2 linked regions of the Homo sapiens genome follow. The protein of the gene in region 1 purifies or fractionates together with the protein of each later gene. This does not show direct contact. Each region holds a gene or a part of one and is shown on either strand. Other genes may lie near its edges. The genes, in order: DYRK2 and XPNPEP3.

Region 1 (15,344 bases):
ATCAGACTGGGAGTCAGAAAACCGGTTCTAGTGTCATCTCTGCTACTTAGTAGCCCTTTTCTTTTAGTCGATTCTAAACACTAAATATGCTTCCGCATGTGGATTTAAATGTGATGGTCGCCAGTGACAAGCATAGGGGGATATTTCTTGCTAGGGTCAGTTCAGGTCATGATTCCTCTAAAGGCATATTATTGGATTATTTTACTGTGGGTCTACTTTATTAGGAGAAGGCCCCGAAAGGGTGTTTTGTTTTGTTTTGTTTTGTTTTGTTTTGTTTGGAGGGACGTAATACTAGGGAAAATTCTTTTTGTCACAGGTTCCCTCTCCCAGTGACCCTAACTTGGAGGCCTCTTTAGGAGTCCCAGAGACTCTGAGAGGGTCACACTGTACCTTGAAACAGTTTTTGGCGTTTGTATAAAGCTGCGGATGCGCTCTGTAGGAGGTTGCTATGACAATTTGCAAACAGTAGAGTGGATGAAACTCCGCAGGAGGTGGCTCCCTTCCGACTGGAGTCTGCACTAGTTCGGGCCTGCACAGTAGGTCCAGCCAGGAGCCAGAGATACTCGGGCGGGGCAGAGCATAATGGACCCCTGGCCCCAAGAGAACTTCAGAAACTAGGCACCTCTCGAGAAGGAAGTGCATGGCATAACTCTGCCCCGTCATCCGGGATTTGTCGGGCTTTCCCACCCCACCTCCTCTCACAGTTGAAGTGGCAAAACCTGTGACCTTTGAACAGAGGCGCACTGTGTGCCACGCACGACGAGGCGCGGATGTGAGACGGGAAAGCAATTTTTTTTTGGTCTTCAAGGAAAAGAGAGGTTGTATATGGCGAATAAAAAAGGCAGGGAAATTCTCCACGTGTCTTGGAAGGGAAGGGGGAAAGAGATGTGTCGGGTGGGGTGAGAGGAATTCGAGGTGTCGCTCCCTCACCGCAGAGCTGAAAGGAAGGTGTGTCTCTCCCAGTGGCCGCGCAGGGGAAAGGCTCGGAGTTGTAAGGAAATAGGAGATGTCTCTGATGTTTATTTTTGCCTAGCAACCCACAGCCAACTGCTTCCCCAGCTGCCGTCCACACGCGCCTCTCTGCCTCCCCTTGTCCTAGCGACTGGCGAGCGGTCACTTGGTGTCAGTAAACCGGGGAGGGTGTGTGGTGGAGGTGGGAGGGCAGCCCCCTCTTTCGCCCCTGCTCAGGGTCAACGAGCTCAGCGGCCGCCCCTCCCGGGACTTGCCTCTCCGAGGTGACCCTCGCACAACTAAGTTATCTACATGATGAATTGGGGAGAGGGGAGTGGCTAAGTCGCTGGGACCAAGAATGGGGGGACGGGGAAGCAGTACTGTCTGTGAGCAGCCATTCAGTTCGAAGAGCTGAAAATGCATTTATGTTTAGGGGTGCGCATGGCAGGGGAGGGGTCTCTGCGGCGCTTTCGGCCGGAGGGCAGCAGCGGTAGGTTGAGCTGTAGGGCAGAGAAGGGGCGCCGCGGGGCCGGGGAGGGGAAAAGGTCGCCGGAGTGGAGCCGAGGGAAGCAGTGCAGATGGCCGGAGGGGGCGGAGGAGGGCGAGCGGAGGCCGCCGAGTTTTCCGGGGAGCGGAGGGGCGGCTGCGCGCAAACCGGGGGACTGAGAGGAGCCGGGCGGGAGGTTGGGTGGGGGTGGGGTGTGCGTGGCCGCGGCCGGGGGAGCCGGGGGCGGGGCCTGCGGCGGCGGAGGAGGGCGGCGGAGGGCGGCGGGGGCGGGGCCGCGCGCCGGCGCCTGTGTGTGAGTGCGCGGGGGCGCGCGCGCGCGGGCCCGGGAGAGGCTCCCGAGCCAGGCGGTCTTCGGTCCTCGCAGCGCTTCCAGCTCCCCGCGCCCCTATGTGAGGGAGACGGGGAGGCCCGCGGCGCGCAGGGGAGGGCGAGGCATGTGCACGGGCCGGAGGGTGCTGCAGCCGCCCGAGGAAGAGGAGGACGGCGGCGAGGAGGAGAGCGGGGGGCTCGCGGCGGCGGGCCCCGGCCGAGGGGATGCAGTGGACTGTGTGTGTCTGGCTGTAGCAGACGCGAGGCGGCGACGAGGCGCCGGGGACCCGCGCGAGGGGCGGCCGGGAGGCGGCGGCGGCGGCCGCCAGAAGTAGCAGCAGGACCGGCGGCGGCGACGGCAGCCCTGAAATGCATTTTCCTCTCCAGCGGCCATGTTAACCAGGAAACCTTCGGCCGCCGCTCCCGCCGCCTACCCGACCGGTAAGGAGGCCGTGCCGCCGCGCCGCATCCCCGGACCCCCGCCGGCCCTGGGCAGCCCCTGTGGCGCGGGCGGCCGCTGCCTGCGGGACCTCGAACAAAGTCGGCGGCGCGGCGCGGGGGAGCCCCCGGGCGGACGACGCGCCCCGGGCTCCATGCAGGGTTGTGCGCGGCCCCGAAGGCCCCTCCGCGGGGAGCCCTCGGCCCGAAGAGGCTTCTGCCTGCCGGGGGCCCGGGCGGGGACCGTCCAGGCCTGCCGCCCCGCCCTGCGCTGCCCGGGGCTTGGCGTGGCCGTGGCTCCCTGCTCAGCTGTCCAAACCCACCTCCCGGCTGCTGGCCGTCTGCAACGTGGGCCGCCTAGCCCCGGCGCGGCCCGGCTCCCCCGCCGGGTCGCGAACTCGCGCGCCAGGGCCCCACTTAACTTTGCAGCTGCCCGCGCCCCGCCCGTGGGTGTGCGCTGGGGAGCCGTGACCCGAACGCCCGTTTTTACTGCCCCGGTCTCTTCCTCCGTCTTTCTTTGGAAGAGGGTTGTCGCTGCCCAGCGGGGTTGGAGGGGGGGTCTGGGTGACTTTCTCCCCCCTGACCCTCTTTTGTCTCCTCCCGCACGTGGCTTCCAGGCCGAGGTGGGGACAGCGCCGTTCGTCAGCTTCAGGCTTCCCCGGGGCTCGGTGCAGGGGCCACCCGGAGCGGAGTGGGGACTGGCCCGCCCTCCCCCATCGCCCTGCCGCCTCTCCGGGCCAGCAACGCTGCCGCCGCAGCCCACACGGTGAGACCCAGCCCGCGGGCGGCCCGGGCGGTGGGGGCGGGAGGGGCCCCAGGCCGAAGCACCCGGACTTGGAGGGGTCTGACGCCGGGAGAAGAGGGGTCGAGATACAAGCAGCCCCACGCCTCGGGCCGATGGTCTCTCGTCGACGCCGCCCTGGTTAAGTTGGGCGAGCCCAAAGCTGCAGCCACAAAGGAAGATTCGTGGCGTGGGCCCCTTACTTCCCCTCCAGAGCTCGCCCACCCATGACCTCCTCTTCCTAGGAACTTCCTCCTTGCTGCTTTCCTTCTTTCCTCATTTTTCGTCCTTGCATCCCAGAGTTCCCTTCCCTGACCCGGTAAACATCTCTGTCCTTCCCCCACCTCCCCGTGGGTAGTGGGTATTTATAGAAACAGATACGTGTTAGGGGACAGCCAGACCGGCCTGCCCGGAAAATCGATCCCCCAAAGAGCCTCCCAGGCCTGGCTCCAGCCAGCAGGGAGCATCGCCAATTGTCCCCCGCGTGTGTAAGCATGTTTTATGAGTGCTACAGGTTTGAGCACAGCAGAAATTGTAATCAACATTAACAAAAATAAGGGCCGCCGCAGCAGTCAAAACAAGCCACCCCTGTAGGATTCTGCAGTTGGACATTATTCAAAAGGAAAGGGCAAGCGTTGCTTTGGAGGTGGGAAAGAAAAAGCACCTAACAGGTGCTGTGGTCTCTGGGAGGGGAGAGGCCAGCGTGGGACTGGTTGCTGGTGGCTGCGGAGACTGGCAAGCTGGATTCGACTAAAGCATGTACCTTTTCTCAGCTCCCAGGGATCACCCTTGGATGGTGATGGCCAGCCTGGAGGAGGTCTGCACTTGGAGGAGGTGATGGTTTGGAGGTCTTTTTTTCCCAATTGGATTTTCCACAGGAACAGCCTAAGATGGTTCTGTGTGAGGGAGGCTTGCTAGGGATTGGTTTTATTTGCTAAGTGAAAGTTGAGTTCTTGAAGAAAAGGCCATCTCCGGTCTACAGGGGAGTAGCTCTGGGGACATATGTTATGGGGAAACTTGTTTGTCAGAGAACTGTGAGGGGATGTCTAGACTGTAGTTGCACCTGTTAGACTTGGAGAGATGTGTGCAAGTTTCGTAGGAAAATGTTTTGTTGCTGTTACTATCTTCCCCCTCCCTCTGTCTGTCTCTCTATCCTGACACATCTGGTCCCAGGGGCTGGGAATTCATTGCACAGAGGTTAACTAACCTGTGTTGGACTGTGGATGGTATAGTAGGATGGATGATTCTGTATATTACTGTTAAGTGTTCTTGTCACAGTGATATTTAAGGGACTGCCATTGATTTTAGGGGTTTGGATTTTTTTGTTTGGGATCATCTGACAATTTGGAAAATATAATACCCAGTTTTTTGCTATGTGTTGATGTAATCACATGACATGGTGTGAGCTGGAAAAAGAACTATTTGGTTTGCATGTGGATTCCAATTTTGTAAGGATGGGCTTTGCTTGATCAGAGCCTCTTTGCAATTGAAATACATGTAATGAAAGTAGATGAAACGACAAGTCTCCACTGGAGGGAGAGCCTGTGGTGCACCAGAAAAGGAAGGATGCGAATGTGCTTCTCAGTACTCCTCATAATGGAGGCCTGTATTTTGCTGTGGCATATGCCAGATTTACTTGTTTTTAACGTGTGTGTAAACTTCGGTATGCTGTTAATTATTAGATGCTTGACTTTGAAGGTGTGAATTTGGGTTTCGATGGTGGTTTAGTTTTGATTTTATTTCTATAACATAGCAGATTTCATAGTACAGGAAAGGTTACAAGGACCACAGAGTTTATCTGGTTCTATTCTTTCAATTTATAGATGAGGAAACAGACTCAGACAAGGTAACTGGTTTCATCAAGATTCCCCAGCCAGTTCATATCAAGGCCAGAGTGAAAGCCTACATCCTCCTGCATCTAGTTTTAATATACTGATGGAGACTGCTAATTCTAGGAAATTGTACTAGCCTCATTATAAATGCAAGAACCTTTGTAGATCCATATTCCCATATGTCTGTCAGATTTTTATAAATTTTTAGTTATTATTTCCAGAGTAATTACACCTAGGAAGAACTTCTAGAATGAATGGGGGGCGGGAGGGCATTAAGGAGATAAAAATGATCTTGTCATAGGAGCTTGCCCACATTTTCTCTTACAGGTGATATAGTAGGCAGGTTAAATATATGATTATAAAGATTATAAACTTTGGAATTTATCTAGACCATTGCCCTTTTGTTTTATATCTCCATGTATAAGTTGTTTTACACTTTAGTTATTTCTGTTTGTGTGAGAGAGAGAAGTGTGCCCAATCACTGTCTTACTTCCTATTATTTTTCTATTAATGTTAATTGGTAGTTATTAATAGAAGTATTTTTAAATTCAAAAATATTAAAATATGTATAACTTTTGTAACTGTTTTACTATGTAAAACACTCCAGTTATCAGTTTTACCTTTATAAAATAATTCAAATTGAAATACACATTTTAAAAAATGGCAGTATTTTGAAGAAGAAAAAGTAGACATTTTTCTTTCTGACAGGGCCACACAGACTGTCAGAATGTTTGAGGAGGAGCTAAAATTCCAGTCTTTTTGGACTCAATTCTATTACCATAATACTATACAGCATTTCTAAGATGACTTCAGAAAAGTTTTTAAACGCCCAAGACTATTATCACAGTGGAATATCTGCTGTTTGCCATTTTCTTATTGGAAGAAATGAAAACTACCAAACTGGTTAGACTATTGTTTTTATATAATATTTAATACCAAAGTACTTGATGATCAAAGAAGCCTTTGCAGGTCTCTCAATTCGAACCCATAAATTGTAGCTATTTTAACAATTGTATTATGTTTTTATTTTTTGTTTTGTTTTGTTTTGTTTTTTTGAGACGGAGTCTCACTCTGTTGCCCAGGCTGGAGTGCAGTGGCTCCATCTCGGCTCACTGCAACCTCCGCCTCCGGGGTTCAAGCGATTCTCTTGCCTTAGCCACCCAAGTAGCTGGGATTACAGGCACCCGCCACCATGCCTGGCTAATTTTTGTATTTTTAGTAGAGATGGGGTTTCACCATGTTGGCCAGGTTGGTTATGAACTCCTGACCTCAAATGATCCACCTGCCTCAGCCTCCCAAAGTGCTGGGATTACAGGATTGAGCCCCTGTGCCCGGCCTCAGTATGTATTTTTAAATGTGACACACACTGTGCTATACATTGGCATATCGGAATAAGCCATGATCTCAGACTTCAAGAGGCTGAGCTGGAGGGAGAGGTTTTTAGTATCCTTAAGTTTATGATGTAGTCTTGACATACGTATTCTGGAAATGTTCTGGCATTTCTAGTCCCTCAGCACCCCCACCCTGCTCTCTGCCCCATTTTTTATAAGTCAGTTAATTGTGCTTTTGAGCTTGATTGTGATTTTAGAGTCCTGCAATGTTTGAGATTCAAAGTCTTCTTTTGCTAGAGCTTCTCAAATGAATCTCTAACATCTGGAAAGCTTTTAAGATTGCATGTGTTGCTTTTAGGTGTTTGGTTGATGTGTTTGTTGCAAGTGTTTTATACATGGTTTGATTGATGTGTCTGCTACAGGTACTTTATGCTTGGAGGTCCTTGGCCTCCAAGTCTGTGCGGATCCACTGCAAGCCTAACGTCTTGTGACTTAGGTCACCAGGGACGTTTCTTAATTCCCTGGGCCTTGACTTCATGTTTCCTTATGAAGGTACACAATGTAGTTCTCAGGAACAACTCCAAGAGAGGCAAGAGTTAACAAGGAGGATCTATTGGCATGTGTTCTTCCATCCCAAAGATATTTATTGAGGGCTTACTATATGCCTGGGTTTATGTTAATGAGGACTTGGAAACATAAGAGGGGACCCAGCCCTGGAATTGCTCACAGCCAGATGAGTACATCTGATGTTAAAACAATTGCAATAAAGAGAAATAAGTAAAAGGGTGAATCACCTAGGTATGAGAAAGGAGATTACAAGAAATATCTGGAAAGGACAATAATAATGCTCTCATTGACTGACTACTAAGCACTTTACACATATTACCTTATTTAATCCCCCTAAAAGCCCTAATGAGGTAACTTTGTTACCTTCTTTTTGCAGACAAGGGCACTGAGGTTAACAGAGATGAAATAAGTTGCCCTGGGTCACACATTTAGTAAATGGTGGAGCTGGATCATTTAATGTGTGTCTAACTGAAAATCTACCATTATGAAACCTGACCTCACTAAAAGCAGAGGAGTGTAAAAGTGTGTGGTGTTTTTTGGGTCCTGGGCTATCTAGCTTTGTTCTCTTGGAGAGAAGAGTGACAGTAGTTGATGAGAATGGAAGGACTCCGATCATTTAGCCTCTACATTTTAGAGCCTTGTGTTCTTACTGGTAAGTTCTTGCATTAGCTATGGAAATAGGTTACAGCCACAGGCCTTGGGCAAAAGCAAGAGTGGTCTCAGGTTGAGACTTTTAAATCAGACTCTAGAAGCACTATGGAGAAGAGATTTGAGGAATTCTAGACTTAGAAGCAAGGGGGCATGTTACGATGCTGCCTCAGTTGTCCCAGTGAAAGACATCAGGAGAGTGAGATGAGGCAGTGTTGATGGAAAGGGCCTGGGATAGTAATGATGCATCTTCTTGGTGACTTGGGAAGGTGAGGGAGGTGTTGAGATTTTCCAGGCACACAGTGCTGAGGATTCATTCGCAGGTGGATAGCCTGAGTGACACATGGAGGGGAAGCCTTCTTTTTATCAAAAATGGAGGATTATGGAAGTGGGAAACTGGTTTGTTAGAAAAATCATGAGTTAAGTTTGAGTTGCTTATGGGAGAGGGAGCTGATCGATAGTTGGATATGTGTGTCTTCCACTCAGGAGATAGCACCTTGGAAGGTCTGAGCTCAGGGAACAAATGCGCAAACATCAGGCCATGGGCAGTTGCTGAAGCCCTGGCTGTGTTCAGGATCAGTTGCAGGGGGTTATGGGAGTAAGAAGCCAAGAGAATCGAGATTTGAACCCTGGGGAACTCTTGAATCCACCTAAGGTTAGGTAGTAGTTGATGCTGCAAAGGAGACCAAGAGAAGGCAGTTGGAGATATAGAAGATGGTCGTTTCTTGTCAGTCTCGTTAGTTTTAGTTACTAAAACATTTGTGATCATGTATTAAATTATGCGAAACACAAAAATTGCTTGAAGTAAATTTCTGAGGCTTGGTTTTACTTTGCTGTGTTTTTAGAAATCTCTAAAGCCCCAAGGTTAATTTTGTCCTAATGAAGAGCTTTATGCTTTTTATAGCATGTATACAGGTAATGTGAATTTTTCTGCTGAAATATCACCACTCCACTCTAAAGAAAATGATTCTATAGGAGAGAGATATTTTGATTCAGGCCCCTTTATTGTCTGGTGTTTGAAAGACCACAGTGGACAGGAGAGGGTGCAGAGAGCGAGGCTGGGGAAGAGAAGCATTGGACAAGCCTGTACCTCTTTTATATATGCCCAAGACTTGCCTGATTCATTTTTATGGACTGCCCTGCTTTTGGCATAGAACAAGGGTAAAATAACCTTTCTAGCTACTCTTATTGAATATAAGGTCACCTAGCATGGAGTATCATCTATGAGTGTGATAAAAAAGCTCAGTTATAAGTCTAAGAAATGATATCCCTGAGCCTATGAAGTCACAGTCAGACAGGCCCCAAGTATTGTCTTCTGTTTTGTTTTAGTTAGAAGTGGGCAGAGAGGAAGCTCACACTCCACATAGTCATTGTGCATATTATGTATCCAATAAAGAAAATGTGAACGTCTTGGTCTGCTAGTAAGAAGGAGTTGGAATTTCATTTTGTAATCCAGGTGTTCCCAAATCATGTTTTGAATTACTGTGTTACATATACAGAGCCCTTCTGCTCTTTCAGTAGTATGTAAAGCCCCAAAGGTAGGATTTAAAAGGGGATAGTAGAAAAAATACTGATGGCAGTGGACTTCATCTAGTTAATTGTAAGTTCCTGGAGGGCAGGGACTCTGTCACTTTGGCAGCCAGCCTCCTGTTAATACCAGTTGACTGAATGAGGTGGATTGTGATGACAAGGTGGTGTAAGATTTCATACAGAAATCACCTGCCAGGCTGCTTTAAGACTAGGGGTTGTCCAAGGCAGGAATTCCTAACTGGGAGAGGATCCTGGCTGCCAGTCCTCTCCTACCCCTTACCTCTCAGCAGCCATAATGCTTAAAGGAAATCCCAAGAAGATTCTCAGTAGAGGGCTGGGGTCCCTTGGTTCACACCATTGATAGAATTTAGACAGGAATGTTCAGGGATGGCATGCATACCTGAAACAGAGGTTGCTTCTTTGGATTCCTATTTGGAAATCTGAGTATCCCAGCAGCTTGTAGAAATGGACATCTTCAGAGAGCTGAGCCACTGACCCCTCCGGAGGAAGGCCAAACAGTGTGGTCGTTGCTTGGTTTGTTGGGCTGAATGCCTTAAATGGTTATTACAGTTAGTAAAGCCTGGAAACTTTTAAAAATAGGTCAGGGGTCCATAAGATACTATGGTACACATCTACATGGGAATCTTTCAAGTCTAAAAACACAGGGTTTTTGTTTTTGTCACTGGATCATGTGTGCACTTAGGTTTCATCAGATTTTCAAGGAAAGGGGAAATACTGGTGATGAAGTGTTTTCAGGATAGAGCTCTAGGTATTAGGGAAAGAGTAGTGAACAAGACAGACATGGTCCCTGTCTTCATGTTAATAAACTACTAGATGAAATATGAAAGGTGCTGTGATCTGGGGGTGGAGGAGCCAACATAGAGTCTTATGTGTGCATGTTTTTTTCTGTATCCTGTTTCATTTTTGTATCAAATGTGGATTGAGTGGAACACCTATGATGTGCCAGGCCCTATACTAAGTGTTAGATATAGAATGATAAAGTTAAGGTCTCTGTCTCCGTGGGGAACCCTGAATATGTACAGCAAACCATCTTGTCTGTTAGGCATGGCATTTATGAGGTCCATTTTTCAGGATCACATGTTTTGTGGCTTTTACTCAAACCAAATGGGATTTTGTAAATGTGAGGTTGGGGGCGGTGGTGTTGTTGGGGGTTACTTATACACCATTTGAACAGACACCACTTCTTTTCTATTTATATTTCCTGTCTGAATTCCAGATTGGCGGCAGTAAGCACACAATGAATGATCACCTGCATGTCGGCAGCCACGCTCACGGACAGATCCAGGTTCAACAGTTGTTTGAGGATAACAGTAACAAGCGGACAGTGCTCACGACACAACCAAATGGGCTTACAACAGTGGGCAAAACGGGCTTGCCAGTGGTGCCAGAGCGGCAGCTGGACAGCATTCATAGACGGCAGGGGAGCTCCACCTCTCTAAAGTCCATGGAAGGCATGGGGAAGGTGAAAGCCACCCCCATGACACCTGAACAAGCAATGAAGCAATACATGCAAAAACTCACAGCCTTCGAACACCATGAGATTTTCAGCTACCCTGAAATATATTTCTTGGGTCTAAATGCTAAGAAGCGCCAGGGCATGACAGGTGGGCCCAACAATGGTGGCTATGATGATGACCAGGGATCATATGTGCAGGTGCCCCACGATCACGTGGCTTACAGGTATGAGGTCCTCAAGGTCATTGGGAAGGGGAGCTTTGGGCAGGTGGTCAAGGCCTACGATCACAAAGTCCACCAGCACGTGGCCCTAAAGATGGTGCGGAATGAGAAGCGCTTCCACCGGCAAGCAGCGGAGGAGATCCGAATCCTGGAACACCTGCGGAAGCAGGACAAGGATAACACAATGAATGTCATCCATATGCTGGAGAATTTCACCTTCCGCAACCACATCTGCATGACGTTTGAGCTGCTGAGCATGAACCTCTATGAGCTCATCAAGAAGAATAAATTCCAGGGCTTCAGTCTGCCTTTGGTTCGCAAGTTTGCCCACTCGATTCTGCAGTGCTTGGATGCTTTGCACAAAAACAGAATAATTCACTGTGACCTTAAGCCCGAGAACATTTTGTTAAAGCAGCAGGGTAGAAGCGGTATTAAAGTAATTGATTTTGGCTCCAGTTGTTACGAGCATCAGCGTGTCTACACGTACATCCAGTCGCGTTTTTACCGGGCTCCAGAAGTGATCCTTGGGGCCAGGTATGGCATGCCCATTGATATGTGGAGCCTGGGCTGCATTTTAGCAGAGCTCCTGACGGGTTACCCCCTCTTGCCTGGGGAAGATGAAGGGGACCAGCTGGCCTGTATGATTGAACTGTTGGGCATGCCCTCACAGAAACTGCTGGATGCATCCAAACGAGCCAAAAATTTTGTGAGCTCCAAGGGTTATCCCCGTTACTGCACTGTCACGACTCTCTCAGATGGCTCTGTGGTCCTAAACGGAGGCCGTTCCCGGAGGGGGAAACTGAGGGGCCCACCGGAGAGCAGAGAGTGGGGGAACGCGCTGAAGGGGTGTGATGATCCCCTTTTCCTTGACTTCTTAAAACAGTGTTTAGAGTGGGATCCTGCAGTGCGCATGACCCCAGGCCAGGCTTTGCGGCACCCCTGGCTGAGGAGGCGGTTGCCAAAGCCTCCCACCGGGGAGAAAACGTCAGTGAAAAGGATAACTGAGAGCACCGGTGCTATCACATCTATATCCAAGTTACCTCCACCTTCTAGCTCAGCTTCCAAACTGAGGACTAATTTGGCGCAGATGACAGATGCCAATGGGAATATTCAGCAGAGGACAGTGTTGCCAAAACTTGTTAGCTGAGCTCACGTCCCCTGATGCTGGTAACCTGAAAGATACGACATTGCTGAGCCTTACTGGGTTGAAAAGGAGTAGCTCAGACCTGTTTTTATTTGCTCAATAACTCTACTCATTTGTATCTTTTCAGCACTTAATTTTAATGTAAGAAAGTTGTTCATTTTGTTTTTATAAAATACATGAGGACAATGCTTTAAGTTTTTATACTTTCAGAAACTTTTTGTGTTCTAAAAGTACAATGAGCCTTACTGTATTTAGTGTGGCAGAATAATAACATCAGTGGCAGGCCACTGATTACTTCATGACTGCCACGCATTTACAGATTGGTGTCAAAGACATTCACTATGTTTTTATGGTTCATGTTATATCCTCCCCAGGGTGACAGCCCCTTAAGGCCCTCCTTTTCCCTCCATGCTCCAGGTCCATGCACAGGTGTAGCATGTCCTGCTTCCGTTTTTCATAAATTAATCTGGGTGTTGGGGGTAGTGGGAGGAGAACGGTCAGAATCAAAGTGACATTCTAAGAAAAACTGTACCTTAGAGATTTTCCTCTAGTGCTCAAACAAATACAAAATAAGATCCCCAAGGTTTAAACTGCCCAGTTAGCATTCTGACATTCTAAAAGCCGGCAAAGCAGCTTTTAGTGGATAAATGGGAATGGAAACGTGTGTGTTCCTCCAAATTTTCTAGTATGATCGGTGAGCTGTTTTGTAAAGAAGCCTCATATTACAGAGTTGCTTTTGCACCTAAATTTAGAATTGTATTCCATGAACTGTTCCTCCCTTTTCTCTGCTTTTCTCCTCTCTGTTCCTCTTTTAATACCACACGTCTGTTGCTTGCATTTAGTTTGTCTTCTTCCTTCAGCTGTGTATCCCAGACTGTTAATACAGAAAAGAGACATTTCAGCTGTGATTATGACCATTGTTTCATATTCCAATTAAAAAAAGAACAGCAGCCTAGCTACTTAAGGTGGGGATTTCCATAGTTCCAAAGAAGATTTAGCAGATTAGAGTGAGTTCACACTTTTCAGGTGCCACTGTAAGGTTCTCTCAGCCTGGGAAACTATCAACTCTTTCTTTAAAAAGAAAGAGGGTTGAAAATCCTCTGGACGAACAGAAGTCACTTTGGCTGTTCAGTAAGGCCAATGTTAACAACACGTTTAGAGGAGGAAAAGTTCAACCTCAAGTTAAATGGTTTGACTTATTCTTCGTATCATTAGAAGAACCCCAGAGATAGCATTCCTCTATTTTATTTTACTTTCTTTTGGATTGCACTGATTGTTTTTGTGGGAATGACACTTTATCTGGCAAAGTAACTGAGAGTTTGGTAAAAGAATATTTTCTTCTCTGAATAATAATTATTTTCACAGTGAAAATTTCAGTATTTTATCACTAATGTATGAGCAATGATCTATATCAATTTCAAGGCACGTGAAAAAAATTTTTTAGTATGTGCAATTTAATATAGAAAGATTTCTGCCTGTTTGGACAATAGGTTTTGGGTAGTACAGATTAGGATAAGTAAGCTTATATATGCACAGAGATTATTGTATTACCTGTAAATTGATTTACAAGTACTTAAAAGCGTGGTCCCCAGTGAGGCCAAGAAAGTTTCCGGTTAAGTTCTTTAATAATAATCCTACAGTTTATCTTAAGAAAAAAAAAAAGGTTTGAAAAAAACACTTTAATTTAGGCTTCGTTGGTTGATGGTGGAAAAAAATGCTCAGGAAATATTTCAGATATTTGCCAAAAAACCAGTAATAAGGTTACCTTATTAAAATAGTGATATTTGCTTTACTATTTAAGGTGTCACTGATAAATTAATTTGTACTTCTGTGTTTAGAAATTATAGCTTCTTTTCCCTTAGTCAAATTTTTTAGCATATTATACACATTTCTGTGTAATCTGTGGAAGTGCAATAATATGTTAGTAAGTTACATTTTAAATAATGCTCATGTGACAATACTCCCAATCAATGGCTTATAGAATTTAAAGATCTGTATATTAGATTTTGGCTTAAAGGCATGAGAAGTATAAGACTTGGTTTGGTGGCTTTGTAAGACCACCAGCCTCTTAATGATGGTTAGCTTCTTTAGGTCATTAAATCAATAAAAACATATAATGCTGTTTTGCTCTTCTAATGCTCCTCTTCCATTTCCAGTTATCTTCACATTTACATTTAAATATACAAACCTGAGCCTGCCATTATTAATTTCCCTATAAAATGACGATACATGTGAACATTTATAAATGGACTAATACTGCTTGTCTTTCCCCCACCGCACAAAACTGGTTCTTAAGATGCCAGCAATGAATTTGAGACTATCTTTATTTATAAATGGAAACCGGAAACTTTTATACCAAACTATAATAATGTGCAGCACTGTAGGGCTTTTTTTTTTTTCCCTCCAAATACAGTGAAATTTTTTTATTCACAAGAGCTGCCACATCTCAGCATTTAGTAATAGAGCTGCTTTAATAAAATTCTAGTTTGATTGTCATGTCAAAAAAAGAAAAATGTTGCATCTTTGTGATTTTAAAACATAAATTAATGAAGGCTCTGATAGGCTATTAGGAGTTGGCTTGGAAACAGTTTTTGGTCTCACAGGTTACCATTGTTTGGGGATGTCTGAGCTGTTTTCAGATCTAGGAATAGCACAGTGTTGTCTTGTCTTTGGCAGTCTCATTTGGCTCTGTTTCTTGCACCACCAGCGTGTTCATTACCACTTAAATATATTGCTACAGCAGTGGAACAACAGAGTGGTGCAAGACACTGTAGATTAACGGTAGAGGAGAAATTGTGCCCTTAGTGTTAACAATGTGCCTTTTGTTCTGAATGCCATGTTGTAGGGCATGCATTTTTTGGCCTCTTTAACTCTTCGAATTCTAGTCAGTAAGAATGGAACCCATCTCTGCAAAGATACATCTGTCTTAAATATCTAGTTACAGGCCTTAATAGAAACCATAAGGCATGACTCATCTTCAGGCACTGAAAAAAGATAACCATCAGGTAGTGTTACACAAGGACTTCCTATATTTAAGGGGTTAAAGATGGTCTTTGTTGTATCTTAACATCAGACTGATTTTTACATTTTTTTTTTGTTATGCTAACACTAGACAAAAATCAACTGTATTTGTAAAAATTTACCTCAAACCATTTAATTTTATAGTGTGATTAATCCCAGGGCATTTGGTATGAACCAAAGTGCATTCCTTTTATATGTGCCTGGCTCTAGTAAGGATGGCCAGGGATTTTTACAATTTGGGTGCAAGGCACTTAAGCCACTTTTAAACTTAATGGGTGGTTTGGGGTCGTGTTAAATGACTCCATCAGAATGTTAGAAAACACTTTAGGCATCAGTAGCATTGGGCCATATTGGAATCCTAAAGTGTGAATTATTTTAAGGAGAGCATTCATTTTTGTAATTTTTTTCATCAAAAATATTTCTGGTAAGCAGAAGACTTTTTAAAAAAACTGATCTGGTCTCGGTAAAGGTTTTAATATTGCCCAACATAATGCTGTAATAGCATTAAAAAAAGTATTTGTGAACTCTGTTTCTTAGGGGCTTGTACATCTCTCTGCTATGGACATACATAAAATTAATTGTAATT
Region 2 (15,344 bases), on another chromosome or scaffold:
TTGCACAAGGACATTCATAACAGCATTTATTCACAATAGTATAACAACCAAAATGTCCATCAACAGGAGAATGAATATGCAAATTGTGGTCTGTTCATACAATGGAATACCACTCAGTAATAAAAAAGAACATTTTAATTACTGATCGAATGTTTTTTGTTACTGATTGAAGCACCACCATGGATGTACTGCATAGACAACCTTCTACCCTCACTGAGCATAGATTATGTTCAGTGAAGGAAGCCAGACACAAAAGAGTATATATTATATGATTCCATTTATATGATGTTCTAGATTTGGCAAACTAAGGTCAAAATAATCACAATAGCATTTGCCTCGGAAAGTAGGGATATTGATTAGAAATGGACATGTGGGCCAGGCGTGGTGACTCATGCCTGTAATCCTAGGACTTTGGGAGGCCAAGGTAGGTGGATCACCTGAGGTCAGGAGTTCAAGACCAGCCTGGCCAACATGGCAGAAACCCATCTCTACTCAAAATACAAAAATTAGCTGGGCGTGGTGGTGGGCGCCTATAATCCCAGCTACTTGGGAGGCCGAGGCAGGAGAATCGCTTGAACCCGGTGGGGGCAGAGGTTGCAGTGAGCCGAGATCGCACCACTTCACTCCAGCCTGGGTGAAAGAGCGAAACTCCATCTCAAAAAAAGAAAAAAAGAAATGAACATGAGGAGGCTTTCAGGGGAGATGGAAATGGTCTGTATAAGGCTTGAGTCCAAAATCTATAGGGCAGACTTCAGTCCAAACTCAGGCAGGGTTTATATTATAGTCTTGAGGCAGAATTCCTTCTCCAGTATACCAAAGCAGTTGTGGCATTTGTGTTTATGTATTGTGGGTTACCTTTTGGTTTGTGTTTCAGCCAGCTAGGCAACAAACTGTTAGAACTTTTCTGACCCCTTCAGCGGCAACGTTGAATCCAGAGTCTCTGATTAGTGGACCCATATCAGTAAAGTTGCCTGATGCAACTGTGTTCCTTCTACCATTATCCCACACCATAAATATTCATTCCCACCCACATTCCCAGATTTTTGTCTTTCGGAAATTGGAAACCTCATGCAGTTCTTTTTTTGTTTTGTTTTTTTGAGACGGAGTTTCACTCTTGTTGCCCAGGCTGGAGTGCAATGGCGCAATCTCGGCTCACCACAACCTTCGCCTCCCAGTTTCAAGCGATTCTTCTGCCTCAGCCTCCCGAGTAGCTGGAATTACAGACATGCACCACCATGCCCAGCTGATTTTGTATTTTTAGTAGAGATGGGATTTCTCCATGTTGGTCAGGCTGGTCTCGAACTCCCGACCTCAGGTGATCCACCCGCCTCGGCCTCCCAAAGTGTTGGGATTACAGGCGTGAGCCACCGCGCCCAGCCCCTCATGCAGTTCTTTTTGGTGTGGAGTGGACCTCCTCATGGGTCAAGCTTTCTGCCTAACTTGGAGCCTGCTGGGACTTGAGTGTAGTTACAATTCTAGTAGAACCAAGGCAACTGCCTCAAGGGACATACCTACAAGTTTTCAGGCAAAACAGGGTTAACCTTCTCAGACGGGGGTGGAAGGGCCACTTCTGCTGGCAACGAAGACTCAGCAGAATTTAGGAGTTCATTGTTCCCAGCTTCAATAGGTTTGGTACATGAATTTGTCAAAATTGTACCGTTCAAATGTATGCATTTTAGTGTATATAAAGACACTTTGGGAGGCCAAGGCAGGAGGATCGTTTGAGCTGAAGAGTTCCAGACCAACCTGGGCAACATAGTGAGACCTTGTCTCTAAAAAAAAAAAAAAAAAAAACTATTACAAAAATGATTATTTAGTAATACTGTGGTGGGCTGGGGTATGGGTACATTATGCTGTGGGTTTCTTATGCTATTATAGTTAAGCATTCTTCTATTAGGGGACATTTAGAGTTTGTCTAATAATTTACAATTATAAAATTACAGCGAACATTTTAGTACATTCAGCTTTTTTGAATTTCAAATATTTTCTTTGGATATATTAGAGTAGAATTATAAGCTCTAGTTATATGAGCATCTTTAAGGCCTTTGATGTAATTGGCTGTATTAATTTATACTCCTATCAACAGTATGTGAGAATACATATCATGTATCATCCCAGGTCACTTTTTTATCTCGTAATTGCTAAAGAAACTGTTATTCTAAAGACACTTAAGTGCTAGTACATTACTAGTAGCCCAGATGTTGACTAGTTTATCCCATGGTATCTGCTTCACCTGTCAGAAGTGGGTCCCTAGGCTTTCTTGCCTTTTTTTTTAATGGTAGTCTATGCTGTAAGGGATTAAACAGGATCATGGCTGAGCCTCATCTGCCCACTGACTGCACTCATGGCTCAGTGCTTCTTTTGGCCCTACTTCATGTCTCTCCTGACCATTTGAAGAAGAGACTGTGTTGCTGCTCCAGCTTGAAGGATTGTTGCCCTTCCTACTGAGCACCTAGGACATGATTGAGCTCCTGGCCATATTGATAGATTGGTACTTATTAAACATCAACAGTGCCCCAGCAACAGCAGCATCTTGGGGTTTTTCTAATCAAACTTAGTAGCAAACTTCTTAGAATATCAGATTATCTAAGTTCAGGTTCTTTGGTTTTCCCGTCCCCAGGTTCACCGCACCTCAGGCAGAACTCTATGAAGCCGTTCTAGAGATCCAAAGAGATTGTTTGGCCCTCTGCTTCCCTGGGACAAGCTTGGAGAACATCTACAGCATGATGCTGACCCTGATAGGACAGAAGCTTAAAGACTTGGGGATCATGAAGAACATTAAGGAAAATAATGCCTTCAAGGTACTTCACTTCTCTTGACCCCAGTTCTCAAGAACACCTAGCATGCTGCTAGGTTTTTACCCTATATAAAGCTAATTAGACTTAGAAATGGGACAGATGTAGTGATTCATGCCTGTAATCCCAGTAGTTTAGGAGGCTGAGGCAGGAGGATTGCTTGAAGCCAGCCTGGGCAACATAGCAAGACCCATCTATATACATGTAGATATATACACACACACACACACACACACACATATATATATACACACACATACGTAGATATATATACATACACACACAGGGTTTTTTAAGTAAAAAGAAAAGATTTAGAAATCATCTTTGTGATCTATAAAAGGGATTTAGCTTTAACATGGATTAAAACAAAGGAAGTCAGTACTTATTTCTTCCAGAAGATGGCAGCACATGCTGATTCATTACATGCTGCATAACTAGCTCAGTATTCAGAAAACTTAAAATGAAGTCTGGTGCCGACAGGGTGAAAAAGGAAACAAGAAATGAGGAGAAGCCTGGGAAACATAGCAAGACCCTATCTCTACAAAAAATTTAAAAGTTAGCCAGGTGTGGTGGCACACACCTCTAGTCTCAGCTACTTGGGAGGTTGAGGTGGGAGGATCACTTGACCCCAGAAGTTCAACGCTGCAGTGAGCTATGTTCGCACCACTGCACTCCAACCCGGGCCACAGAACAAGGCCCTGTGTCTAAAAAAAAAAAAAAGAGAGAGAGATTAACTTTTAATCCTTTTATGGGTTATTCTGTAGGTCAAAGGAGAAGGTATTTGTTGTTTAAGTGACATTTTTGACACTTCAGCAATATTCCCAAAGACCATGTCATTAGTGAATTTTTTTTCTGCATCCAAAATGTGATGGTGTTCAGTAAAAACGTAAAACCTCAGCTTTAAAATTAAGATACTAGATGCCTAAGTCAGATAGACCATTAGGCATCTCCTACCTACAAGTTAAGCCTTCTAGGACTTCTGTTATCAGTAAAAATGAAGCTATAAATTGGCTGTTGCTTGGGCCAACAAATCTTTAACTAACTGACGGAAATATCCAAGCTGGCTGGGCACAGTGGCTCACACCTGTAATCCCAGCACTTTAGGAGGCTGAGGCAGGCGGATCACATGAGGTCAGGAGTTCGAGACCAACCTGGCCAACATGGTAAAACCCTGTCTCTACTAAAAATACAAAAATTAGCCAGGCATGGTGGTACATGACTATAATCCCGGCTATTTGGGAGGCTGAGGTGGGAGAATAGCTTGAACCCAGGAGACAGAGTTTGCAGTGAGCCAAGATCACACCACTGCACTCCAGCCTGGGCAGCAGAGCAAGACTCCATCTCAAAAAAAAAGAAAGAAATACCCAAGCTGGTAGGTGCCCAAAAGTGTGCCTTCTCCACAAGTTGCTGTGAGCTATTTAGGGTCTCCAGAGTAGATTCCTGAGAGGGATGTGTGAACGAACATTGGAAAGAGAACTGTGATAATAGTCATCCTCTCTTTCCCAAGAAAAGAGATTTTTTTTTCTTTCTTTTATTTTTATCTTTCCTGTGGTACTGAAGAAAAGAGACTTTCATTTGCCACAGTCATTAGTTGGAATTACTCAAGTCTGCATGTATGTAGTATATTAAATAGCGGGAATGGAAATGTGGATTGATGAGAATGCCATTGGCAGAATTGCATGTAAGAGGTCGCAGTTTTTCAGGTGCCTTTAAGTATTAGCCCAAGGAGGGATTAAACTGAAGTGGCAGAACCATGGGGGAGATAATAACACATATCTCACTGATTTATACTTGCCCAGCATTCCCTGTAAGAGGTCATTGCTCTAATGATACTGTGACAATTATCTTTTCCAGGCTGCTCGAAAATACTGTCCTCATCATGTTGGCCACTACCTCGGGATGGATGTCCATGACACTCCAGACATGCCCCGTTCCCTCCCTCTGCAGCCTGGGATGGTAATCACAATTGAGCCCGGTAAGGAGAGGTGTTACAATAGTAGTATGAGGTAAATGTTTGTTTGTTTGTTTGTTTTTGAGATGGAGTTTTGCTCTTTCGCCCAGGCTGGAGTGAAGTGGTGTGATCTTCACTCACTGCAACCTCCGCCCCCCAGGTTCAGCAATTCTCCTGCCTCAACCTCCTGAGTATCTGGGATTACAGGTGTCGGCCACCACGCCTGGCTAATTTTTATATTTTTAGTAGAGACGGGGTTTCGCCATGTTGGCCAGGCTGGTCTCGAACTCCTGACCTCAGGTGATCCACCTATCTCAGTCTCCCAAAGTGCTAGGATTATACGTGAGCTACCGCGCCCAGCCACATTGTTTATTTTTACCTCAACCAATGTAATTAAGTTAGAAGAGACAGGAAAAAAAGTCCAGTGTGGAAGGTAATTTTATTTTCGATTTATCTTTTGTATTCTTATTTAATATCACACAATTTGTTCAGTTTGACTCCTCCAATAAACAACAGATGGGGAATACTTCCTATAAGTAGATATTAAGAAATGAATCTTTTTTAATCCTGCCTTTCCCAGGGCCAGTTTGTACTGGTCTCCCATTTAGTAGTGGGGGGCTGCTCAAGCTTCCAAAGCCCCCGGTGCTTGTGTGCAGAGAGACAGGCAGACACACTATGCTCTCAGTTTCAACACCTCTGCAAGCTGCATTGAGCTACCCAGCACCATCCCACTCCTTAGTATCCATCGCCTTCCTCATAAGCTTCAGAGAAAGCTAACAATCGGATACGTTACCTAACTTGAATGGTCCTGGGTGTTGGGCAGGATTCTGAAGAGAAGCAGTGACCACAATGGTGTGTGAAGATTGATGTTGTCAGAGTTGATGGTTAAATACTGATGCTGGTTTTGTTTTGAAAACAGATCTAAATTTTAGATTTCAAGTATTTTAATCTCTGTATAAATTATGGCTGTGAAATGTCTTTTATGCCACCCTTTGAACCTAGTCATACATTGCTATCTGTGGCCATAGATATATCATTTAGTTCAATCTGTTTGGTACATGGGCGCTTCCTTAGACTGCGCTACATTTTCCTTTGCTGATCTTTCTTTTTCAATCGCAGAGCAGTATCTGTGAGGATAGTGGAGGAAGTTTACAACTTGTTTAATATAAAAAGCCCTGGTATGTGTCTAACTTCATGATTAGAAAGGGTACCTGGGGTTCCTACATTTTTCCAAATGTACATTAAAGTCTTTCAGTTTCTCTTGTATTTTATATTACACACATCAGATATATTTAAATCTTATAATGACTGTCTCTGCAGCTTCCAGTTGTCAAGGCTAATAATCTCTAAATGTTTCTTTGAATACAGTTTAAATATATTTTGTCTTTATTTTTGCAAGGTGCTCTTTTTCCAAGGGACTCTTAGGCAGGGGAAGAATGCACTTACATAATCTGCTTGTCCCCCACATATATTGACGTACTTTTAAATTAAGTAACTTTATTGGCCTGCTTGAGCCACTAGAATATGACAGAATCATGATCAGCATTGCCGTAGTTGTATTTAGCTTGTAGTCCAATATAAAGATAACCACAATAATAATTTTAGTAATGATACCAACATGTGTTGACCATTATATGCCAGCCACTTTGACATGTATTATCTCATTTAATCCTCACAGCTTTACTAGGTAGGTACCATAAAGATCCAGTATTACAGAGGAAGGAATTTTAACCCAGAGGTTAACTTACTTGCCCCAAACCACCCAGTTACTATCATTCCTGAACAGCATGTTCTTCTTTCTACTTCACAGGCATTTATATTCCAGAGGATGACAAAGATGCCCCAGAGAAGTTTCGGGGTCTTGGTGTACGAATTGAGGATGATGTAGTGGTGACTCAGGACTCACCTCTCATCCTTTCTGCAGACTGTCCCAAAGAGATGAATGACATTGAACAGATATGCAGCCAGGCTTCTTGACCTTCACTGCGGCCCACATGCACCTCAGGTTCAAAATGGGTGTCTTCTGGCAGCCCTGCACGTGTGCTTTCTGAGTGTCTCTGTGTGTGCATTAATATATGCATTCCATTTGGGAGCATAGCAGCTGTGTGAATGTATGTAATTGTGTGTGGGGGGTTTTTTGTTTTAAGTAGTTAGAAGTCTGGGAAAATGAATTTTTGAATAGTATGTTACTGCAGCTTTGGTAACATTAATTCTATAGAATTAATGATCAGAGCAAGTTTAATTTTTAAACATAAAGGTCTTGGTTACACATGTCCATGCATTCCAGTTAACACATTTAAACATATAGAAAATTCACTTCTTCTTTCAAGTCCTTCCCTTTCTATACTTTTGCTGAGATCAACCCAATATCATAAGAAGTTTGTGTGATGCCTGTATTTTTAGCTAATTACCAAGGTCTCTGCCTATGCAAAAATTCATCTTTCGGTGATTGTGGGCGGCCAATACATACCTTCTGTAACTCCTCCCTACCTATTCTAGATCCTGCATATCTACTGGAGCCATATGAGCCCTCAGGGGCACTGGTGTCCTGCAGTCTTACTAGTCAGCCACAGTCCAGGTTCCAGCAACACTAGCTACCTACCAAACAAAACACTTCTGAGCTTTTCTTGCCATTTGGTTGCCTGGGACCTGGAAAGTGTTTAGATTCTTGATAAAGATGGAAATGGAAGAGAAAGAAAATTATATATGTATATACTAAAGATCCAGACATCAGGGCTGGGCACAGCGGTTCCGCCTGTAATCCCAGCACTTTGGGAGGTCCAGGCAGGTGGATCTCTTGAGACCAGGAGGTCAAGACCAGCCTGGCCAACGTGGTGAAACACTGTCTCTACTAAAAATACAAAAATGAGCTGGGTGTGATGATACATGCCTGTAATCCTGGCTACTTGGGAGGCTGAGGCATGAGAATTGCTTGAACCTGGGAGGTGGAGGTTGCAGTGAGCTGAGCTCATGCGACTGCACTCCAGCCTGGGTGACTGAGCAAGACTCTGCCTCAAAAAAACAAATAAATAAATAAAATCCTGACATCCTGCCATCTTTTCTCTTCAATTTAAAGTTGATTTCTTAATGATGACTTCAAAAATTAATAAAAAGAAAAGAAAAAAATGATTTCTGGCCGGGCGTGGTGGCTCAAGCCTGTAATCCCAGCACTTTGGGAGGCCGAGGTGGGCGGATCACGAGGTCAGGAGATTGAGACCTCCTGGCTAACACGGTGAAACCCCGTCTTTACTAAAAATACAAAAAAAATTAGCTGGGCGTGGTGGCGGATGCCTGTAGTCCCAGCTACTCAGGAGGCTGAGGCAGGAGAATGGCGTGAACCCAGAAGGCAGAGCTTGCAGTGAGCCAAGATCGCGCCACTGCACTCCAGCCTGGGTGACAGAGCGAGACTCCGTCTCAAAAAAAAAAAAAAAAAAGAAAAAAAAAAGAAAGATTTCTTTCGCAGATATCCCTGCTCCCTCTATAGATTCTTAATGCACTGACCCTCACAGGTTACCCTTTTAGCTGTTGTGCTGCGCAGGAGCAGATCCTCTACTTACGTACCCTGTCAGAGTCACAGTAGTAGCGCCCAGTTTTCAGAGAAGTACCCCTGTTATCATTCTGTGATTTCCTCTAGTGCTAATAGAAACAAAATATGGAATCTACCAAGTACCCGTAAATATCCTATGATTCTTATCTTTCTTTGATACTAGCACTGGGAGTGCAGTGGTAAAGAGTCATACTTCTTTTTTTTTTTTTTTTTTGGAGACAGAGTCTCGCTCTGTCGCCTGGGCTGGATGGAGTGCAGTGGCGTAATCTCAGCTCACTACAACCTCCACCACCTGGGTTCAGGCAATTCTCCTGCCTCAGCCTCCCAAGTAACTGGGACTACAGGTGCACGCTGCCATGCCCAGCTAATTTTTTGTATTTTAGTAGAGACAGGGTTTCACCCTGTTGCCCAGGCCGGTCTCAAACTCCTGAGCTCCGGCAATCCGCCCACCTCAGCCTCCCAAAGTGCTAGGATTACAGGCATGAGCCACTGCGCCCGGTGTAAGAGTCATATTTTTTTAAACACAAACATTGGATACAATTATACAGCAACTCAGTTTGCAAGATGAACAGGGCTAGATTACCACAGATAGCTTATTTAGGAGCGTCTGTGATAGAGGGAAGCTTTAAGAACCAGTGTGTTCACCTCCTTTAAACCTGGATATGAGGTCAAGATGTATAAAACATGCCAATTGTTAGAACACAAATTTGAGGGTTTCTTAAAAAAACAATTTGTATTAGGGAAGCACAAGCTAGGGGATTAACAATCTCTGTAATGCTGGAAGTTTGCCTATCTTATCAGGGAAACCCAGGGTACAGAGTGAAAAGCAGACAGGCAGTGACTTCCTCAAGAGACAGATAATGTGAAAACAAAAGTGATACAAATCATATCCTGACAGTGCTAGCCTAGGAATGCCTGGCTTTGCGCACCTTATCTAAGCAGCTCTCAGAATGGAGGCTGCACAGCTGGAGTCTCCATCCCCCATACCCACCTTCCCACCTCCCTCCAATTTCTCAATCCAGAGCTTTTTAAAAAAAGGGGAGGGAAATAACTCCACAGCTCTGGCTGCTCACTTCCCAGGCTCTGTGCCCCCAACAGCCCTTTCCTTGGATTGTGTTTCCTTTGTTCATTTGTAATCCAGGAATAAGGAATTTCCTTTTCTTCTTGTATCATTTTCTTTTCTTTTCTTTTTTTTTTTTTTTTTGAGACGGAGTCTCACACTGTCACCGGGGCTGGTGTGCAATAGCGAGACCTCAGCTCCCTGCAACCTCCATCTCCCAGGTTCAAGCGATTCTCCTGCCTCAGCCTCCCGAATAGCTAGGAATACAGGCGCCTGCCACCACACCCGGCTATTTTTTTGTATTTTAAATAGAGACGAGGTTTCACTGTGTTGGCCAGGCTGGTCTCGAACTCCTGACCTCATGATCTGCCCGCCTCGGCCTCCCTAAGTGCTGCGATTACAGACGTGAGCCACCGCACCTCCTGTATCATTTTCTATGGTCTAAACTTTTCTAGCTAAAAGCCTAGGTAGCTTGTATGTATAGCAGCATACTTGGACATGAAACACACTTCTGGTTAGATTCCAGTCAAGTTCTATAGGTGTTATTGGTAGGCAGAAAGGCTGTTGTAGAATTCTTCTGGTGATTTTCAGTCCCTGACCCAGGTATATTGTCCTTTGAGTCCCAGATTAACTAACTATAGCAGCTAAGCATTTGAATCAGACTTCTCATAGCAATGTTATGGGCTGTCTGATATATTCAGGATTTGTTGAGCAGATAAGCTGTGTGTGATCTTACTCATTCTCAGCCATGCCGCAGACATACCCATTTCCCTTTAGTAATTTTTTAATACAGAGAATGCTATTAACTGTTACTGGATATCAAATAATTTTATTTTTCTAATAGTATTTTCCAAATATTTCTTAAAATTCTTAAAATTTAGGTTAAAGTTTGCTGGTCTCTTACATTTAATAAAGCTGGGACTTGAAGACTTACCATAGTTTTCAACTGCCTTTGCAAGTTCATAAACTTCTAAGGGTAAAAAGTGAATAAGATAAATTCAGAGTTTTAAGGTAAAGGCTTTATATTAGCTTTTTTTTTTTTTAAAGGTTTTTTGTGGGGTTTTTTTGTTTTTTTTTTTTTTGAGATGGAGTCTCGCTCTGTCACCCAGGCTGGAGTGCAGTGGCACGATCTTGGCTCACTGCAACCTCCATCTCCCGGGTTCAGGCAATTCTTCTGCCTCAGCCTCCTGAGTAGCTGGGACTACAGGCGCGTGCCACCATGCCCGGCTAGTTTATTGTATTTTTAGTAGAGATGGGGTTTTACTGTGTTAGCCAGGATGGTCTCAATCTCCTGACCTCATAATCTGCCCACCTCAGCCTCCCAAAGTGCTGGGATTACAGGCGTGAGCCACTGCACCCAGCCTTTTTAAAGTTTTTAATTGACATATAATTGTACGTATTTACAGGGTAAATAATGATGTTTTGATACATATATAATGATCAGATCAGAACAATTAGCATATCCATCACATTGAACATTTATCATTTATTTGTGTTGAGCCTTTAGTTCTTTTTTTTTTTTGAGATAGAGTCTCACTCTGTCACCCAGGCTGGAGTACAGTGGTGTGATCTTGGCTCACTGCAACCTCCACCCACCGGCTTCAACCAATTCTCCTGCCTCAGCCTCCCTAGTAACTGGGATTACAGGCACCTGCCACCACACCCAATTTTTGTATTTTTAGTAGAGACGGGGTTTCACCATCTTGGCCAGGCCAGGCTGGTCTTGATCTCCTGACCTTGTGATCCACCCACCTCAGCTTCCCAAACTGCTGGGATTACAGGCATGAGCCACGGCCCCCAGCCAGAGACAGTCTTGCTTTGTCGCCAGGCTGGAGTGTAGTGGCGCCATCTTGGCTCACTGCAACCTCCAACTCCCTGGTTCAAGCAGTTCTCCTGCCTCAGCCTCCCAAGTAGCTGGGATTACAGGCACGCACCACCATGCCCAGCTAATTTTTGTATTTTTAGTAGAGACAGGGTTTCACCATGTTGGCCAGGATGGTCTTGATCTCCTGACCTCGTGATCTGCCCACTTTGGCCTCCCAAAGTGCTGGGATTACAGGTGTGAGCCACCGTGCCCAGCCGAGCCTTTAGTTCTAAGTATAATAAATAATATATATACCAGGCATTCCTATTAAAAATCTTAACTTAAAAAAAATTACTCAAATGTTACTACTGGAATTTTTCTCCCTGAATTGAAGATACATGGTTAGATCATTAACAATACCACCTAAATGAAGGAAACATATCTGGATATCCAGTGTCACATACTTTTATGTATTTATTTCAGGAATTACTATTTTGTCACCATAATTAGGAAACAGACTGTGTTCTTTATTTGAAACACAACAGTATAAATACTATAGTAAAGTTGGGTGCAGTGGATCACAGCTATAATCCCAGCACTTTGGGAGACCAAGGAGGGATGGTCACTTGAGCCCAGGAGTTTGAGACCAGCCTAGGCAACATAGAGAGACCTTGTCTCAACAAAAAAATTTAAAGTTAGCCAGGTGTGGTGGTTTGCACCTATAGTCCCAGCTACTCAGGAGGCTGAGGTGGGAGGATCGCTTGAGCTTAGGAGGTCAAGGCTGCAGTGAGCCATGATTGTGCCACTTCACCCTGGGCAACAGAGAAAGACCCTGTCTCAATAAAAAAGAAGAGAAAAACTGGAGTGAGAACTCTCCTCCTCTCATAATCATAGTATCCACGTTAGGAAAATGCTTCTGAGAGTAACTTAAAGTACTGTGTGTGCATCTTCCTTCAAAACCTTGCTTTTTTCTCCGTTTTTGTAAGGTGAGAAAGGGAAAAACCTTCACCGTAGAAATACTGTCTTGAGATTAAGATACAAATAAAACATGTTAAACCTCCATCTAAAGACATTGCAACTTATTAAAACAGAAAAATGTACCTTTGTTATGTCTTTCCAAATATCCACACCCACACCCTGTTCAGCTTTGTTAATAATACAGAGATCAGAAATGTGAAGCACAAATGCTGCTTCTCCCCCTCCTGTTCCCATGTCAGAGATGGAGAAGAAAGCACAGTGAGCTGTTCACCAGTCCAGCGGTGACCTCGGAGTCCTTTGTAACAGTGTTTCCAATAACTTCTGCCAATAAAACAGAATTTGAGTTAGAACCTATCTGCTGTCCCTCAACTAGTGTCTGATAGCTGAGAATGTAATTCGTTTGTGTGTCTATTAGAAAATTAGGCAGGCACCACAGACAGTAGCAACATAAAGGAACCTGCTTAGAAGAGGTTTTTATGGTGTGATTGTGTTTTTTTTTTTTTAATTTTTGTTTCCTGAAGTAGAATCCATAGCTCAAAACAAGTTTTAAGCCTGAGAAAATATAATTTGAGGTGTTTTTTATGCTCCTAATGAAAAGATGAATGAATGCATCATTAAACCTTAACAGTAGAGCAGAATTTCACTGTTACAAACCACATGGGTTCTCCTGGTTGTGCTGCTGTTCTCTACCTGTGTGTCACTGAGTTTGAGCATCATTATTGTTTGAATCAGAGGACCCACTGGAATCAAGGCTTCTTGGAATTGCGCAAGAATCTGAGAAAACTTCAATCTTTACCAGCATTTCTTAATGCTTTCCATGACTTTTGTGCAATTATATAAGTTCAGTTTAGACAAAATGCTGTTACTTTTTAAGGCATTACTAATAACTGAAAATAGTTACGTCATTGCCCATCAAGGGAAAAGCACTTGTAACTGTCATTTAAAAAAAATAAAACTATAAAACAATATAGAGGGGTATGGTGTGTGTGTGTTACTTTAGAATCTAGAGTTTACGGTCTATTTAGTATAAACAGTATAAACGTGAGACCATCTGGTTTTACAAAATAATTTACAAAGTATTCATTAGCTGCTGTCACAAAATCATGATAGCAAACTTGAAATGATTTTATCAGTCTTATAGAGGAAGAATCTGGTGGATTTGATCCAGCCTATTAAAAGGTTGGCACAAAACTGACTGAAAGGTCTCCAGAAAGTCCCCATAACACTCAAGACTGTAAACTGTAGCCATGCACATTTTATGAAGGATGAATTTTGTGGGGAAATAGGATCAAGTTGCAAAATTATGAATATTTGACCTTTGTCAACCATATAATGAATCGTAAGTGTAGCCATCTCTCTCTCCCTGTTAGGAACCATCTTTAAAATCTGAGACTGTCTATGAGGAGTACCTTTAACATTTCTCACGTTCTGGCAGGCACAAAAAGATACTTTGTATGGCACAATGGAACAAATTTGAGGGGGCTGAGTGGTAAGTACATATGACTTGTAGAAAAAAAATTATTATACATCCTTTAACTATGATAAGAAAAATATGTACAGTGAGCCACCATGGCTGACCAACAAACATGAAATTTCTTATAATGGGAATGGATTTCTAATCCAGTTGAAATATTTTATATCAAATATTTCAAAATAAGCTATAATTTGCAGCATATACATGTATTGTTAGAACAGTCACCCTGCTCACAGACTCCACTAAGAAGTACTTCATCCACAAAAGTCGTAAGTATCCAGCATATGTAAAGCAGAGATCTGGGCTGTCTGAGGCTGCATCTGGAAGCAGCCCTGGCCCAGTCTTGAGCCCCCATGACACCTATGGCTAGCAGCCCTTACACATCTGAAACACCAACCACTCTAGCTAAATTCCATGACATCCTTGTCTTTCATGTGACACTGTGCTCAACAGCTGCCACTGAAGTAGATGACCAAATGGTAACACCTCTCCTTCTCCATATTTCAGTGAGCTCTTGAAAAATAATTCTACATCTTATGACCCTAATTTAAATACCCTAATTGAAATATCATTTAGGGTATTTAAATTAGGGTCATAAGATCTAGAATTATACTGGTAAGAATTACTCTGGACATAAAAATTTGTGTGACTGGTCAGATGTGGTGGCTCATGCATGTAATCCTAGCACTTTTGGAGGCTGAGGTGGGAGGATCACTGGAGGCCAGAAGTTCAAGACCAACCTGGGCAACATAGCTAGATCCCCATCTCTACAAAAAAATTATATTAGGTGTGATGGTGCATGCATGTAGCCCCAGCTACTTAGGAGGTTGAGGTGGGAGGATCACTTGAGCCCAGGAGTCCAAGGCCCAAAGCTGCAACAAGCCATTATCATACCACTACACTTGAGTGACAAGGGCAAGACCCTGTCTCTAAAAAAAAAGTATCTGTCACTATGTAATATTGATCTAGATTTCCACCAGTTTTTAAACCCCATTGGTTCTGAATGATTGCCACTAAATACTACATTTTCCTAGGAAACGAAAGTGGGAAGCCTACAAGGTTAGAACAAACATTTTTATTAAAATATTCATCTTGGAGGGGCAGGGGGAGGGAGAGCATCAGGATAAACAGCTAATGCATGCAGAGCTTAATACTTCAGTGATGGGTTAATAGGTACAGCCATGGCAAACATTTACCTATGTAACAAACCTGCACATTCTGCACAGTTGTGTACATGTATCCGGGAACTTAAACAAAAAAAAAATGGCCGGGCACAGTGGCTCACACCTGTATTCTAGGACTTTTGGAGGCCAAGGCGGGCGGATTGCCTGAGCTCAGGAGTTCAAGACCAGCCTGGTCGACATGGTGAAACTCCGTCTCTACTAAAATACAAAATTAGCTGGGCACGGTGGTGGGAGCCTGTAGTCCCAACTACTCGGGAGGCTGAGGCAGGAGAATTGCTTGAACTCGAGAGGCGGAAGTTGCAGTGAGCCGAGATCAAGCCACTGCACTCCAGTCTGGGAGAGCGAAACTCTGTCTCAAAAAAAAATTTTTTTTAATTTTTAAAATTTCACATTTTAGCAATTAAAAAAATACTCATCTTGAAAGATGTTATTAAATATTTTATTGAGGCCAGGTGTGGTGGCTCACACCTCTAATCCTGGCACTTTGGGAGGCTGGGTCAGGCGGATCACCTGAGTTCAGGAGTTCGAGAGCAGCCTGGCCAACATGGTGA

The links.
Region 2: the proteins of DYRK2 (region 1) and XPNPEP3 purify together in Homo sapiens (affinity purification with mass spectrometry; 2 studies listed by BioGRID and IntAct, with this or other methods). This does not show direct contact.

The regions. Positions count from the first base shown.
Region 1 is NC_000012.12:67,646,974-67,662,317, forward strand, and holds the start of DYRK2 (dual specificity tyrosine-phosphorylation-regulated kinase 2), read left to right. Parts: upstream 1-1,771; 5' UTR 1,772-2,160; coding exon 2,161-2,209; intron 2,210-2,823; coding exon 2,824-2,972; exon of another isoform or gene 2,973-3,821; intron 3,822-10,132; coding exon 10,133-11,740; 3' UTR 11,741-15,344. UniProt on the Homo sapiens protein: Serine/threonine-protein kinase involved in the regulation of the mitotic cell cycle, cell proliferation, apoptosis, organization of the cytoskeleton and neurite outgrowth. Functions in part via its role in ubiquitin-dependent proteasomal protein degradation.
Region 2 is NC_000022.11:40,919,713-40,935,056, forward strand, and holds the end of XPNPEP3 (xaa-Pro aminopeptidase 3), read left to right. Parts: intron 1-2,620; coding exon 2,621-2,801; intron 2,802-4,649; coding exon 4,650-4,770; intron 4,771-6,556; coding exon 6,557-6,723; 3' UTR 6,724-13,103; downstream 13,104-15,344. UniProt on the Homo sapiens protein: Catalyzes the removal of a penultimate prolyl residue from the N-termini of peptides, such as Leu-Pro-Ala. Also shows low activity towards peptides with Ala or Ser at the P1 position.